Homo sapiens: one gene and its partner. The protein of the gene in region 1 interacts with the protein of each later gene in a pairwise test. Each region holds a gene or a part of one and is shown in the gene's direction. Other genes may lie near its edges.

Region 1 (8,436 bases):
GAAACCTCCTCCCTCTTTTTGTTAAAGACTACTTCTTCAAATACGTTGGAGAAAAGAAGGAAGGGCATGGAAAAGGGCAAACATCTCTTTTATTAACTCGATTATTAACTCCACTAATTCTCTCTGGCAGGGTCCAAATCTGGCCCTCTGATGTAGGATGTCTGGCTTCAGCCTAGCTTCCTTACACTTCTTCAGGTCCCCAGGGATGCAGAGGCCTCCTCTGCTATGGCCGCTTGACCTTGGAAACTCATGTACCCATACCAGATCCACTGATGGGAATGTATACAGCTTACAGCCACCCTGTCTGTCTGGCTCTCCCTTTCCCATTCTCTTCTCTGCTTAAGTACACATACCTATAACTGCTCACGCTGAGGAGGGGAAAAGAATGCCCCCCAGTCTTTCCTTGAGGACACCATAAGCCTTTAAGAAGGAGTAGCATGCACCAAGAAGAGGGGAGGAAAAAGCCACTACATTACCCAGTAGGCCAAACCATGGTTCCAGCAAATTTCCCTGCCTCTCACTAGCTCAGCCTTCTGGAAGGGGGTGGCTGTGGTTTGTGGGGTTGGCAGGGCTGATTCTACTTTCTGAGGTAGATGGCAAGCCCCACTTGTTTGGTGACTTCCTGATAGTGTGGAATAGTTAACGTATCTTTGTCCTGAAGTTTGGGACCCTGATGACCAATTCTAGGGCAAACATCCTGTTACAAAGGCAAGAAATTAATGAGTTAAATGATGAGTTTATTATAAAATTATGGTCAACACCCTACAATTATATGTTATAATATTTTGTATAATATGTAGAGCAATACTAATCAAACAAATAGTTATACTAGTAACTTTACCTCCTTCTCCTTTCCATCTTACCTCTGCCTAAATGTCCCTGGTCAGAAGTCCTTAGTCACCGACGGGATTTAACTCCAAACTCCTTTTTTGACATTGATAATGCTCCAGTCCTTATTTCTGTACCCAGACCCTCTGCTCCCCCAGGTCAGGACACTTGGGCCTGCTGAGTCCAGCTCACACACAACTCTGCCTTTGGTCTGACTCTGTTTTTTGTCTGAAATGCCTACCTACTTTCTGTTTGTCTAACTCCAGGCTTTCCTGTAGGTTTGCCTTTCAAGCCACTGTGCACTATAAGGCCTTCCAGAACTGCTCTTCCTCTGGATTTCTTAGCACCCACATTTCACCATTAGCCTAAGCCGTCTTCTCTTTCAGCGTTCTCTTTTTCTTCCCGTACTCTGTTACCTTACTAAATTATACATCTCTCAAGGACAATAACACTTTTCTTAAGCTTCTCCGTAGTGTTATGCTTGTTCAGTGCATATATGTTTGCTGATGGCAAAGAATAATATTTTGGAAATAATTTCATGATTTAAAAATCTAAAAGATATTAAGATATACTGAAAAATAAGTATTTGATTATTTAAAATGTTACAAAAGAGGAAGGTTTCCTACTCCCTCTCTGCATCCACATTTTCATGGAACAAAGGCCTAGGTATAAGCTGATTTAGATTTGCCCCCATCTAGAAATTTAATCAAAGTCTTAGAGCTGGAGAGAACATCAGGGTTACTGAGTCTCCCTCTCTGCCTTAGGGTTCAATACAAAATTTAACACTGTTTGATTTGGAACTAGGGAATGGTTTGGGGACAGTAAATGTTGAGGCTAATTAGGTGATTTAGATAATCCAGAGTCTGTGTAAAATTAAAATCCTATTTGTAGTGAGACTCTGAACTAGCTTTCTCAGCCTTTTGCTCTACCTCCTGCACAAGAATATGACTCAGAGCTGGGAGTAATGGCATGCTTAGCCTTGGATAGCTGTCCTCCTCTGCTTTCAGGATCCATTTTCATTACTCTATCATCTTCCTCTTTCTTTCTTTTCTTTTCCCTTGTTCCCCTAATGTATCAATTGGAAAGTATCTAGCATTTCATGGTACAATAGAAAAGGAAGTGGACTAAAAGGAAACCTAGATTCTATTCCCATCTTTTTCACCAATTATGTGATCTCAACCACCACCACACCACTCTGGGCTTATTTCTTTGTTGATAGAAGTGGGGATGAAATTAGGTAATCATATTAATGTCACTGGTTTTTGTATAGACCATTATATGTAACCGTTCACTTAGTTATTGGCGTACCCACCACATTGTATCGTGTGAAGTATAAACACTTTTTTTCTTTCTTTTTTTCATAAGGTTATAGCTCAGCAAGTGTCAGATAAACACTTGGAAGAGGGTCGGCTTTATCCTCCTTTGAATACCATTAGAGATGTTTCTCTGAAAATTGCAGAAAAGGTAAAACCACTCTTGTTCAAGCTTCATTATTTTTCCTTCCTTTTCTTGCTAAATATGCATTTTTAAATATTAAAAATCTGCTTCCTTGAAATGTATATCTGTATCAACTTACTATGTCAGAAGTCAGAGAAATGAGGCACACTGACACTGTAGAGCTTAGGAGCTACATTTGCTTCTCAGAGAAGAATGGAAGTATTGGGCCGAATAATTAATTTCCCTCTCTATCGTTCTTTTTTTCTCCTAAAATTTAAATAATTCATTAGGGCTTCCTGTCAGCCAGATTTCTCCCATTTCACCTTTTTAAAGTTGTTCTTTTCTATATCACATTAGTGATAATTAACCAAAATATTACAGATATGTTAGAGTAACATTTAGACCTTGAACCACCTTCCATATCCATGTCACTATGATGTGTGGCATCATAAATGACAGATCACAACTGATAATACTGGGCGGAAGGCAAAATAAAGAGGTCAAAGAACTTGAAAGCTGTTTGGGTGGCAGATGAGCTACTGAAGGAGTTAGCCAAGAAGAACCCAAAGGCAGAGAAATTTTCTGTAACTAAACTGGAAGATAAGTGGACTTTTTTTGCAGTGTAATTGTATTAGTTTTCTTGGGCTGGGATAACTACATACCACGGTTATGTAGTAACTGTTTTTAAATATTCAAGCCACAGACTGTGTGGCTTAAACAACAGAAAACTATTTTCCCATAATTCTGGGAGCTAGAAGTCTAAGATAAAGATGTTTGCAGGTTTGGTTTCCTCTGAGGCCTCTCTCCTTGGCTGGCAGATGGCTGCCCTCTTTCTGTGTCCCCATATGGCCTTTTCTCTGTGTGTGTACACGCTTGTGTGTCCAAATTTCCTCTTCTCTTAAGGACACCTATCAAATTGGATTATAGACCATTCTAACCGTCTCATTTTAACTTAATTATCTCCTTAAAGGCCTATTTCTAAATACACTCACATTCTGAGGTACTAGTGGTTAGGGCTTCAACACTGAATTTGGGGTGGGAGGAACACAGTTTAGCCATGACAGTAGTTATATGTTTAAATTGGGGTTTCTCTACTTCAGCGTTGTGGACATTTTGGGTCAATAACCATCATGCGGCTGTCCCAGGCATTGTACAATCTTCAGCAGCATTCCTGGCCTCTGCCCACTAGATGTCAGTAGCATCTGCTCAGTTGTATCAACCAAAGCTGTTTCCAGACATTGTCAAGTATCCCCTTGGGGGCCAAATTGCTCCAGATTGAAAATCACTAGCTTAAGCTATTAGCAAGTTATCTAAACAACACCATTTAAGAGTCACATATCATTATTTATCTCGTTGACTGAAGGCAGTCTCTTAAAAAAAGAAGTAATTCTCTAAAAACCTTTACATAATAATCTGCTTGGTTATCTATGAAAAAGTATGTTCATATATTCTACTAATATGTATCTGCTAGTTTTTAAGTAGTTTAAACTATTAATATACTGAATAGCATATTATCATTTTAAGTTCATTTTGGAGATTTAAATGAAAAAGAGTTAGCTTATGATTAGAGGGGAAAAAAAGCAGGGGACAGCAGGGGAGTGCCAAAAGATTCAGATATCACACCTAGAATAATGGAAGAATACAGAGTGCATACACAGAAATTGAGAAACTAGAACAAAGAACCAACTTCAGAGAGGGAGATCATGTAAGTGGACTGCAAGTTTGAGGTATCAATGGCACATTCAAATGTACCATTTTATCAAGTAGATAGAAATGACTGAAACTTAAAGAGAGGCTAGATAAAAGACCTGGGCATCTTCTGCATGTGGTAACTGGTGAATATCTAGGAGTGGGTGAGGTTGCCAAGAAAGCAAGTATAGAAAGGAAATAAAAATGAGAATAGAATATAGTTTATTATTCTGTCTAGAAGACAGAAGAAAGATGCCAGTTAAGAAGAGAAGTGGTCAGGATTTTAAGAGACTCCAAACTGAGCAGCATGTCAATAATTAGGAAAGAGACAATTTCAGAATGGGAGTGGAAATTGTGACCAACACAGCCAAATCCTGGAGAGAAAAACAGATGCAGACTTTTATTTGGTACTTAACAAGTTATCAGAGACTTTTACAAAAGAAATTTCAAGATGTACAGGAGGTTCAGAAGGCAGAGAATTAGGAAAGCAATAAAATATAAGCCACTCTGTCAGAGAGTTTGGCATTGACAGGACAGAGAGAGTGAAGATTTCATTGGGAGAAGGGATTATTTCTATGGTATAACTGGGAGCAGAAAGAGGAGATGAATTTCCACATAGTCTATGTCAGTAATGAAACAATGTGTTTTATTATAAAATTAACATAGCCATCTTAAGTAGGCATGAGGGATCTTTTTGGGGTGATGGAAATATTCTAAAACTGAATGTGGTAATATTGTTGCACAGCTCAGTAAATTTACAAAAATAATTTAGTTGTACACTTAAAATGCTTGAATTTTGTGTGAATTATATCTCAATAAATCTGTTTAAAAAGTAATACTACCATATTATGGGCACTTTGGAAAACAAATAGAGAAAAGGAAAATAACCAATATCCTATTTTTCTAATATAAGTATTATTTTTTTTCCTGTGTTTGTTTTGAGTCTTTCGTTTGTTTATTTTCTAACATTATTATAATTATGAAATATACATATTGTTTCCTGCTTTTTCATAGACATTTCATAATACAGCACAGTATTCATAACCTTAATTGTTCATAAATGCATAGTTTTACATTGAGATGAGATAATCATTCTGATATTCTTTGAAATCAGACTTATCAAAATAAGTCAGTCATATAAATATTGTTTTAAGAACTGATGTGAATTCGGCTGGGCACGGTGGCTCACACCTGTAATCCCAGCACTTCGGGAGGCCAAGGCAGGTGGATCACCTCAGGTCAGGAGTTTGAGACCAGACTGGCCAACATGGCGAAACCCCTTCTCTTCTAAAAAAGTACAGAAATTAGCCGGGTGTGGTGGCAGGAGCCTGTTAACCCTTGGGAGGCTGAGGCAGGAGAATCGCTTGTTTTTTTGTTGTTGTTGTTTTTTGTTTTGTTTTGTTTCGTTTTTGAGATGGAGTTTTGCTCTTGTTGCCCAGGCTAGAGTACAATGGTGTGATCTCGGCTCACTGCAACCTCTGCCTCCCGGGTTCAAGTGATTCTCTTGCCTCAGCCTCCCGAGTAGCTAGGGTTACAGGCATGCACCACCACACCCGGCTAATTTTGTATTTTTAGTAGAGATGGGGTTTCTCCATGTTGGTCAGGCTGGTCTTGAACTCCTGACCTCAGGTGATCCACCTGCCTCGGCCTCCCAAAGTGCTGGGATTACAGGCATGAGCCACTGTGCCAGCCAGAGAATCGCTTGAACCCAGGAGGCAGAGGTTGCAGTGAGCTGAGATCGTGCCACTGCACTCCAACCTGGGTGACAGAGTAAGACTCCATCTCAAAAAAAAAAAAAAACTGGTGTGAATTAAATAGTATATATGAAGTGATTAATTTTGATGAAGAGAATCCATTTAAAGAAAGTAGGGAAAGAGAAGATGTATGAAGACACTGAGGAGATAGTCTGAGTTGGTCAAAAGGGAAATTAAGGTCATTTTCTCTGAGTAGTTGAAATTTTCTCCCATGATGTGATATGATGATGTGATTCTCCAGTGAGTGATGAGAGTCAAATGGAAGCTTGAAGATGGGGGAAGGTTTGGAATTGCTTTTTGGGAACCACAAGAGGAAGTTTTAAGTAAAGAGAGAAAAAAGTATAATGTGCAGACTAGAAAAAAAATATAGCACCACAGAAAGTTTACTGCATCGTTCTAGGATGCACAGCCACAAAAGGAGAAAGCCAGCTCTGAGGGGTCCCCAGACGAGGGACTAGAATTATGCATGAAACACAGGGCGTGATGACCAGAGAATCTGTGACGCTGGCAAAGAGTGCTCATCCTGACTGTGGTGTCTAGATGATTAGCTGAGCAAGATCAGGAGACCCTGGGGTACAGGAAGAGATTTTGTAGGAGGCTGTGGTGAGAATAGGGATTCTTGAAAATTCAAGGTTCAAGTTTAGCAGGACTATTTAGGTATTTATTTCAAGTTAATTGTCAGTCAGGTCATGTCAAGACTTTGAACACTGGCTTCTCTGAGAAATCCAGATGTGATAGTACTTGAATCAGTCTCACCTGGTCACACTTTCCTTAGTTGCTGATGTCATTTTTCTCTCTCACTATATGATTTATAATTGCATTTTCATTTTATATCTTCATTGCTTATATGTGCTTTTATTATAATACACTTAATGTTTTTGCAAACATAGGATACAGTGTTTTTGAAATGGATAAAAACTTCCACTCACATGGGCTCATGATTACCTCTATTTATTAAAATAATTAATATTCTTTTCTTATATCTAGATTGTGAAAGATGCATACCAAGAAAAGACAGCCACAGTTTATCCTGAACCGCAAAACAAAGAAGCATTTGTCCGCTCCCAGATGTATAGTACTGATTATGACCAGATTCTACCTGATTGTTATTCTTGGCCTGAAGAGGTGCAGAAAATACAGACCAAAGTTGACCAGTAGGATAATAGCAAACATTTCTAACTCTATTAATGAGGTCTTTAAACCTTTCATAATTTTTAAAGGTTGGAATCTTTTATAATGATTCATAAGACACTTAGATTAAGATTTTACTTTAACAGTCTAAAAATTGATAGAAGAATATCGATATAAATTGGGATAAACATCACATGAGACAATTTTGCTTCACTTTGCCTTCTGGTTATTTATGGTTTCTGTCTGAATTATTCTGCCTACGTTCTCTTTAAAAGCTGTTGTACGTACTACGGAGAAACTCATCATTTTTATACAGGACACTAATGGGAAGACCAAAATTACTAATAAATTGACATAACCAACATTAAAACTCATAATTATTTTGTTGACCATTTTGTTAAAATCTACTTTTCAAAAAAAAAAAGCTAGAAATGAATCTAGGCGTAGGTGAACTTTTGCTAAGCAGAAATAACACTACTTTGTTGCCTAGAGAAAGATAACTTCTCAAGTATTTTTATTCCAGTCCTAGATCATATATGTTCTTTTGTGCAACGGAATTCTAACAGTTCTAAGAGAAAGATCACTGCTGTTTACAGCGCCTTGTGCAGCCTTAGATTTTAATATTCTTTTGTCATTGTTACATCTCATAGAGTAAAGCTCTTATTACCTTGATCCTGAGTCAGAAATCCCACCTGAAATCACCTTTTTTCCCCCTTGATCAAACATCCCATCCTTCAGCTACCATACTGTTGCTACAGGGATTTTGTGGACTGTGGCCCCTGTCCCGAGGTTGGCACCTTCAGTTCAGCACAGCCTGAGCAGTGAGAAGGTCTGAAAGGAGAGTATATAGTTAAGATCCTTGAGAAAGGGCTGCCTGAGGAACTGACCTCTTAAAGATCTCAGGATCTTTAAGACAACAAGTTAGGTTCCTACTGGAGTTACCTGCCAGAATGGCCTCTTAATTAACTCAGGTAATGAAGAGCTAACTGTGTTATAATCATCTTGCTTTTGCCTGAATTTGGAGAAAGTATTATAATTAAGTTCCCAGTATCAGAAATGTCCTTACATAAGATTAAAATATCTTGATGACTAATACCATTCTATGAGAAAGAGTAGTTATATGCCCAGACTGTATTAATTTACTTTAGAAACTAATGTTTGAAGTAATGGAAAAAATTTTAAATTATAAAGCTAAGGTGCAATAACATTTGCTACTTATTTATAGAATTATTTGAAGAATTTTGTTTTTGAAGTAATGCTTTAAGGAGTATAAGATATTCAAGATAAATTATACTATAAAATGATTTTATTGAAAGTTGAAGGTTACACAAATTGTTTTAGGTATGAGCAGAAGAGGTTAAGGTATTTCTAAAGGTAACATATAGTCAAGAGTTTCCTCAAAATAGTTATTTGGAGAAGAATCAGAATGTCTGTGTATTTCTTGTCTGTTTCTATGTTGTCTTATAGCTCTGACTAAATGTGTTTACCTATGCAAAAGATTTATTAAAGCATAGAAAAGGTGAATGAATAAAAATATAAAATAATTGTCCTTTTTCTTAAAATGTTACATTGTAATGCTTGGTCTTGGGGTCATATG
Region 2 (7,000 bases), on another chromosome or scaffold:
GGCCAAGCCCAGAAGTGGTCCGCAAGATGGGAGACAAGGTGGAGGCCCGGGCCATCGCCATTGCTGCGGGTGAATATAACGGGCAAGCAAGGGGTGGCCCCGCAGCTCCTGGAGAGGGTCCAGCAGGGAGGGGTGGCAGGGATTCCCGCCTGTTACAGAGACTCCCCCACACCTTTCTCCCAACAGGTGTTCCCGTTGTCCCTGGCACAGATGCCCCCATCACGTCCCTGCATGAGGCCCACGAGTTCTCCAACACCTACGGCTTCCCCATCATCTTCAAGGCGGCCTATGGGGGTGGAGGGCGTGGCATGAGGGTGGTGCACAGCTACGAGGTGAGTGAAGATGCCCAGGGCTGGGAGCAGGGCAGGGCAGCCTGCCGTGGGGGCAGGGGCGGACCACTCAAGGGATCTGGAAAGTGGGTGGGGTTCATGGCAGGGGAGAGGTAGCGCTGTGGGGTCTGAGGTCTGGCTGGCCCCTGCCCGCCCTCGCAGGAGCTGGAGGAGAATTACACCCGGGCCTACTCAGAGGCTCTGGCCGCCTTTGGGAATGGGGCGCTGTTTGTGGAGAAGTTCATCGAGAAGCCACGGCACATCGAGGTGCAGATCTTGGGTGAGTGGTCCTGACGCCCCGCCTGGGGCAGCTGGAGGCGGGAGCTGAGAGGCCCAGTCCTGGTGCCGTCACAGTGGCTGGCCTTGGGGACAGCCCTGGGGCCTGTCGGGCGCTTTTCCAGAGGACTCTGGAAAGTGGGCTCTAGGGGCCGAGCTGGCAGTTGGTCCTCACAGCCTTGGTGATGCTGGTGTCTCTCCTGGCAGCCTCTGTACCGCTGGCAGCCGGCACTGACTGGCGACAGTGGTTATGTGGGGGTGATGGGGCATTTAGGAGGCGTGTAGATTCCAGTAAAAGCTAAGCCCAGTTTACCTCCCTCCCCAGGGGACCAGTATGGGAACATCCTGCACCTGTACGAGCGAGACTGCTCCATCCAGCGGCGGCACCAGAAGGTGGTCGAGATTGCCCCCGCCGCCCACCTGGACCCGCAGCTTCGGACTCGGCTCACCAGCGACTCTGTGAAACTCGCTAAACAGGTGAAGGGTGGGCTTCCCGTGTTGGGACAGGAGCCTGTGCTCACAGGCCGGCAGGCCTCACAGTGGGGCGCTGGTTGGGGAAGGGGACCCTGAGTCCCCTTCTGGGGACTGGGGATGGGGAGAAGAGGGTGAAGGACTCTCCTGGGGGCCAGAAGTGGGTTTGTGGCATCCTTCCCATGTGCAGTTGAGGCACCTGGCCCAGAGGCCAAGCTTAGAGTCCAGGATGGCTGAGAAGAGGGAGGGAAGGAGCCCCAGCCGCCTCCTCAGCCCTGCTGCTACACAGACCTGGCTTCTCTGTGGCATCAGCTCATCCCTGTCATCAGGAGAATGAGATTCCGTGGATTCTGTCAAGATTGAGGACCATTATGAAGGCAGTCCTCCCTCATGTGCTTCTGTCTCCTACATCATGTTTATTATGATCTGTTTCCTTGCTCTGCACCCTCTGCCCATCTCTGCTTTTCTGGGACCTCTGGTCGGGGGGTCCTGGGCTGTGGAGGAGGCTGAGGTGGCAAGCTATCTCCCCACAGTGACCTGCCCCAGGACTGGCCTGGAGAGCACCTGCTGTGGCCAGGTGTGCAGCGGGGTCCTGCCCCCTCTTCTTCCCTGGCCTATAGGCAGCAGAGGATGCGTCACCTCCCCATGCCGAAGGCCGGGGTGTGCACTCTGCAGCAAGGCCTCAGCCACAGCTAATGCGAGGCATCGACCAGGGTCGCGTTTAAGTCAGGTCTTATTTACTGGCTTATACTATTTCACATTCCAGAACAGGTTTAAGGGAGGTGATTCAGTCTGGTTTATCGTTTTGGTGAGACCAAAAGTGAAACTGGAATTAGGGCTGAAATTTGAGTTAGAGTCATTATCTGTTGGTACCTCTCAAATGAATTTCTTTGGGTGGTGGTGGCCAGAGGTGACTGCGCAGTAGACTAGAAGGGGACTTTCTGAAAACACCTCCAAGCAGAAGCAGCGGCTGGGAGAGGCCTGGGTCTCCGTGTCTGGGTGGATGACACAGCCTTGGCGGGCAAGCCCAGGAGGCAGCAGGGCAAGGTGCCGAGCCTGGGATGGGTGGGGGCTTCTGCCCATGTCTCGTCCCAGATAAGCTGGGTGCAGCCATCTGTGGCTCCGGGAACCCTGGAGCCTAGTGGACTACTTGGGGGACGTGTCCAGGCAGGAGCATGACCTGGGCCCTGGGGTCTGTCTGCCATCTGTGGGGGCAGGGTTTGCCACAGGCCATTCTTTTACGGAACCAACCCAATGGGTGGGACGGAATCCCTGTCCTGAGTCCAGTGAGTTTGCCCAGGCCCTGCCTGTGCCCTCCCCTGCTCACGTGGCCGCCCCCACAGGTGGGCTACGAGAACGCAGGCACCGTGGAGTTCCTGGTGGACAGGCACGGCAAGCACTACTTCATCGAGGTCAACTCCCGCCTGCAGGTGGAGCACACGGTCACAGAGGAGATCACCGAGTGAGTGTGGGCGGGCAGGCGGGGCGGGAGGCGCGGCTTCTAGGATTTGCATAAAGTACAGGCGAAGTGGCTCCTGGGGCCAGCCAGGGGGCTTGCTCACTCCCCACATTGGTGGAGAGCAATGGGGATCCAGGTACTTAGTGTTTTAAAAGTCATTATTCTAAAAGCATTACGTGGTTATTATAAAAATCAGCACAAAGGAGCAAATAAAAATGACTGACAGCCCTCCTCTCTGTCAGGACGCTGCCGATTGCTCAGGCCCAGGTGCTCCCATCTGTCAGAGGAGTAAAGCAAGGCTCAGAGACATTTGGAGAGTTGCTCGGGGTCACACAGCTGGCGCTGGAACCCAGGCATCTCCGGCTGTCTTTGGTTTGCTCCTTTCCCGGTTTACCTGTTTTACTAGAGACATAGTTTGATGCAATAGAGATGTTTTATATAGAATTTTTATTCTACTTTTCAAATTATTTAATATTTGTTGAAGGCATTTCCCCAGGCCATAATTCTGTCTGAATACTTTTAGTGGCTGCGTACTATTCCGTCTTGTGTGTATTTCTTAACTTACATAGTCCTCGATTGTTAGGCAATTAGTTTGTGTGTCTGGCTTTGGTGGTTATTAAGCGTGTCACTTATCATCTGTGTGCCTGAATGTTTGGCTTCAGCTCTGAAGAGTTCTGAGGGTAAACCCTTCAACAGGATTATCTGATTGAAGGATAAGTAGCATCCCTCGGAACAGCCCTCTAGAGAGGTGGCACTAGCGTGCTCCCTGCAGGCACTGAGGATGACATTTTCAAAATCCGCCTGGTTTCTAAATGACAGTCATGATGGCCCTCACCCTTCAAGGTCTCTACTATGAGCCATGTAATTTCTTGACGCTGCTTTGGGCCAGCCCATCTCACTGTGGAGCATCCCTGACCCCAGTTCTGCCCCCAGCCCCAACCCCACCTGAGACTGAGGATGCTGTCGGGGTGGCTGCTGTGGCTCGCCGGGGGCATGGAGGCCCCTCCCTCCCCTTAGGAGAAGCTTAGAGACAAGGCCAACACTTTGGCCGAGTGAGACTCTTCCCCTCAAGCTGCTGTGAACTCCTCGGTCTTGGGTCTGCTTAGAGCGTCCTGTTAGGGATGGGAGTCTGTCTGCTGTGGAGCACGGGTTTTGTGTCAGACAGATTGGGGCTCAGGTGCTCTCAGGTCCCAAGCCACGTGGAGCCTGGGTGAGCTCCAACCTCTCTGACCCTCGAGCTCCTCCTCTGGTGGGAATGACAGGGCTCTCAGCACACCGTCGTGGAGATGAAGCATGGGAGGAGTGCAGCCTGGCCTGTGGCACTGAGTGGAAGCTGTCATCTCTGCTGCGAAGTGGGCCAGCAGGCAGCAAGAACACGGGGAAATCCTGCCAGTGTAGGTTCCAGGCTGCCTTCACCACAAGCCTCAGTGGCAATACATGTAAAACCTTGAGTGGTTTTTTTTAAGACATAGTCTTGCTCTGTCACCCAGGCTGGAGTGCAGTGGTGCAATCTTTGCTCACTGCAACTTCTGCCTCCCGGGTTCAAGTGATTCTCCTGCCTCAGCCTCCTGAGTAGCTGGGATTACAGGCACACACTACCAGGCCTGGCTAATTTTTGTATTTTTAGTAGAGACAGGGTTTCACCATGTTGGCCAGGCTAGTCTCGAACTCCTGGCCTCGTGGGATTCACCCACTTTGGCCTCCCAAAGTGCTGGGATTACAGGCATGACCTGCTGTGCCCAGCCTGGTTTTTTTGTTTGTTTGTTTTGTTTTTTAAACAGCTGTTCCACTTGGACTTGTGACTGCCCTTAGGAGCAGTAAGGCTGAGCTTGGAAAACCCTGCAGAGGTGGGGAAGCTTGCACTCTCCAAGCATCTCTAGGGGGTTTTGGGCACAAGTCCAGCAGGAAAACAGGCCTCAGAAGGACAGGTCCTGACCCAGCACCCACTGTGCAACCCTCTCACAGCTGTGGTTACCATTTCGAGGAGCCCAGCCTTCACAGCACCTGTTCCCTTGCACACTGCCCCCCTCACAACCACCCACACAGCATAGCACATATGGCCCCAAGAATGTGCTATCCTGGCCCTCTGACCTAGAGATCTGCTGAGGCTTCAAATCTAGGCTTTACCAAGGGGGAGTTTAGGGGAGTGGGGAAAACAGACCTCAAGGAAGGAGGAGGCAGAGTACAGGGAGGAGCAGCTTAGGGCTGTGTGGACGGCACCGTGAGTCAGGAATGCAGGAGCAGGTGGTCCTGGTATTTCAGCGGGCCATCTCCAGCTGCCAGGCACTGTGTAGTTTAGTCGGCTCCCGGCGGGAGCAGGGCAGGGGCTGGTGGAGCCACTGGTTGGGAGGAACCGGCTGTTCAGGCTGGCCCAGAGCCTATGGGCAGGAGTCGCACTGTGTGTGGACGCCCCACTGGCTGCGGTGCCCCTCGTCTATCCCCCGCCTCATGTTTCCCCCTTTCTCCCGTCCTTTCCCCCCTCCCCCCAATGCCCTACAGCGTAGACCTGGTCCATGCTCAGATCCACGTGGCTGAGGGCAGGAGCCTACCCGACCTGGGCCTGCGGCAGGAGAACATCCGCATCAACGGGTGTGCCATCCAGTGCCGGGTCACCACCGAGGACCCCGCGCGCAGCTTCCAGCCGGACACCGGCCGCATTGAGGTGGGCGGAGCTCGAGCAGAGGGAGATGCCAGCTCACCTGTGCACAGGTTCTGCCTGGTGCCTGGGGCTGCAGTGCCAAGTTGCCACAGCCCGGCAGTTAGGGAGGACCCGCATGTGGGCTCTGAAGTGGACATAGAGTACACGGAGGCAGGCAGTGCCCAGAGGAGGGGCGGCGCCTCCCAGGGGAAGAGACTGCTGGGCGCCCAGGTCAGGAGGAAGCCGTGAGGGTGGGAGCGGGGAGCAGGCTGGCTTGGTGGAGCAAAACGCAGGGACCCAGACACAAAGCCAGCCCCTGACCCTCCAGCTCCCACAGGAGCCCCACGCCTGGCTGCCGACGGAGCCCAAGCACCACCTCCCATCTGAGGGATGGGCTGACATGGCAGGACCTGGGGGTGGGGGTGGCAAAGGACTGGGCCCAGAGGTCCCAATGGAGTCTGAGCCAAGCTCAGGGGCCCATCAAGGATGGGGGAGGGAGTCGGAGATGGCGGCACAGGAGGGAGACCGAGAGGTAGATTCGGGGCCGCGAGATGGCAGCCTTGGTGGGGGAGAGAGTGGTGTAGGGGGCGCTGAGGCGGTCCACGGCAGGCTCCTCAGCACAGCAAGACTCGCGCCTTCTCCAGGAGGGCTCCCTGTACCTTTCTTCCTCTCAGCACCGGGACCCAGTCATTGGCCTCCGAAACCCATCTCCCCCGCCTCTGGTCCCAGCTGTGGGCAGGAGCCCTGCGGCCTGCTCGGTGCCTGTTCCCAGCCCTGCACGTGCTGCCAGCACCGTGCCAGCTGTGCTAGGGACTTGCTCCCTATCCAGGGGCCTGAGCCCCAAAGGAGGCAAGACATTGATGGAGCTCCAGCTTTGCTCCAGAGTCCAAGGCAGAGGCCCCCGGGCTTGTGTGGGGCGGTGAGGGGAGCAAACATGAGTTTGGGCCAGGCTCTGGGCTTCTGAGACAAGGGAGGCTGGGGAGGCTGGGGGTAGGGACCAGAGCTCTCTGGATTCTGGAAGCAGCAGAGCCTGTGGCTTCAGCAGGGAGCTGGCCACCTGCCTTCTGTTTCTGGAAGAGTCTGTAGGTGGCGGCAGCCCCAGGCTGAGTGCTGCCCGGCGGCCCCTGACTTCTCTGCCTCCCTCCATCCCCACTTCCAAGCCCTGGCTCTTCAGAGCCTGCCTCATCACAGAGTATTTTTAGCCGACAGTTTCTGCTCTCAGCTGAGTGTTCACCCTTAAATATTTTATGAAGTTCCTTTTTATTGAACACAGGCCTCTGCCCCCGAGAAGCGGAAATGGGCAGTGGGTGTCCCGAGCCCCTCTGGGCGGTCCCCCCACTCCCCTTCTTCCTTACCTGGGCCTGACGGGTCCCCCACCTCCGGGGAGCCCTTCTCTGCGGGGCTCACTCGGGCGGCACGAACAGGTGCAGGCGGCACGAGCCACCTGTGTGTGTGAGTGTCGGCGCCTCTGTCTCCTCCTCTCCGCTGCCCCTCCCATTGCCGTCTGGCCCTGGCCCTGTCCCGCTGCCCCGCTGCCCTCTCCTCGCCCTTGGTTTGCTTCCCTGATGGGTGTGGACCCTGCCTCTGGCACTTTCCCTTCATTTCCTCTCCCACTTCCTCCTCGTTGCCTCCTCTCCCTCCCATCCTCCCTTCTGGAAGGAAAGGAAAGGAAAGGAAGGGAGCATGGGTGGATGTTGAGGCCTTCCCCACCACCCTGTTAAAAACAAAAACAAACCCCCGGTCAGCCTTGCCTCTTGCCTCGCACATGGTCCTTTGGAGGCCCTGTCGCCGGCCTGCCGTCCCCTCGCTGTCTGGGAGCCCACGGCG

Evidence for each region. Proteins that work in one complex are often made in the same cells at the same time.
Region 2: the proteins of ME1 (region 1) and PC interact in binary tests that used the Homo sapiens proteins (3 or more experiments, as listed by UniProt).

The regions. Positions count from the first base shown.
Region 1 is NC_000006.12:83,210,354-83,218,789, reverse strand, and holds the end of ME1 (NADP-dependent malic enzyme), read left to right. Parts: intron 1-2,193; coding exon 2,194-2,292; intron 2,293-6,695; coding exon 6,696-6,866; 3' UTR 6,867-8,388; downstream 8,389-8,436. UniProt on the Homo sapiens protein: Catalyzes the oxidative decarboxylation of (S)-malate in the presence of NADP(+) and divalent metal ions, and decarboxylation of oxaloacetate.
Region 2 is NC_000011.10:66,864,384-66,871,383, reverse strand, and holds part of PC (pyruvate carboxylase, mitochondrial precursor), read left to right. Parts: coding exon 1-69; intron 70-186; coding exon 187-332; intron 333-491; coding exon 492-609; intron 610-930; coding exon 931-1,082; intron 1,083-2,419; coding exon 2,420-2,538; intron 2,539-5,034; coding exon 5,035-5,197; intron 5,198-7,000. UniProt on the Homo sapiens protein: Pyruvate carboxylase catalyzes a 2-step reaction, involving the ATP-dependent carboxylation of the covalently attached biotin in the first step and the transfer of the carboxyl group to pyruvate in the second.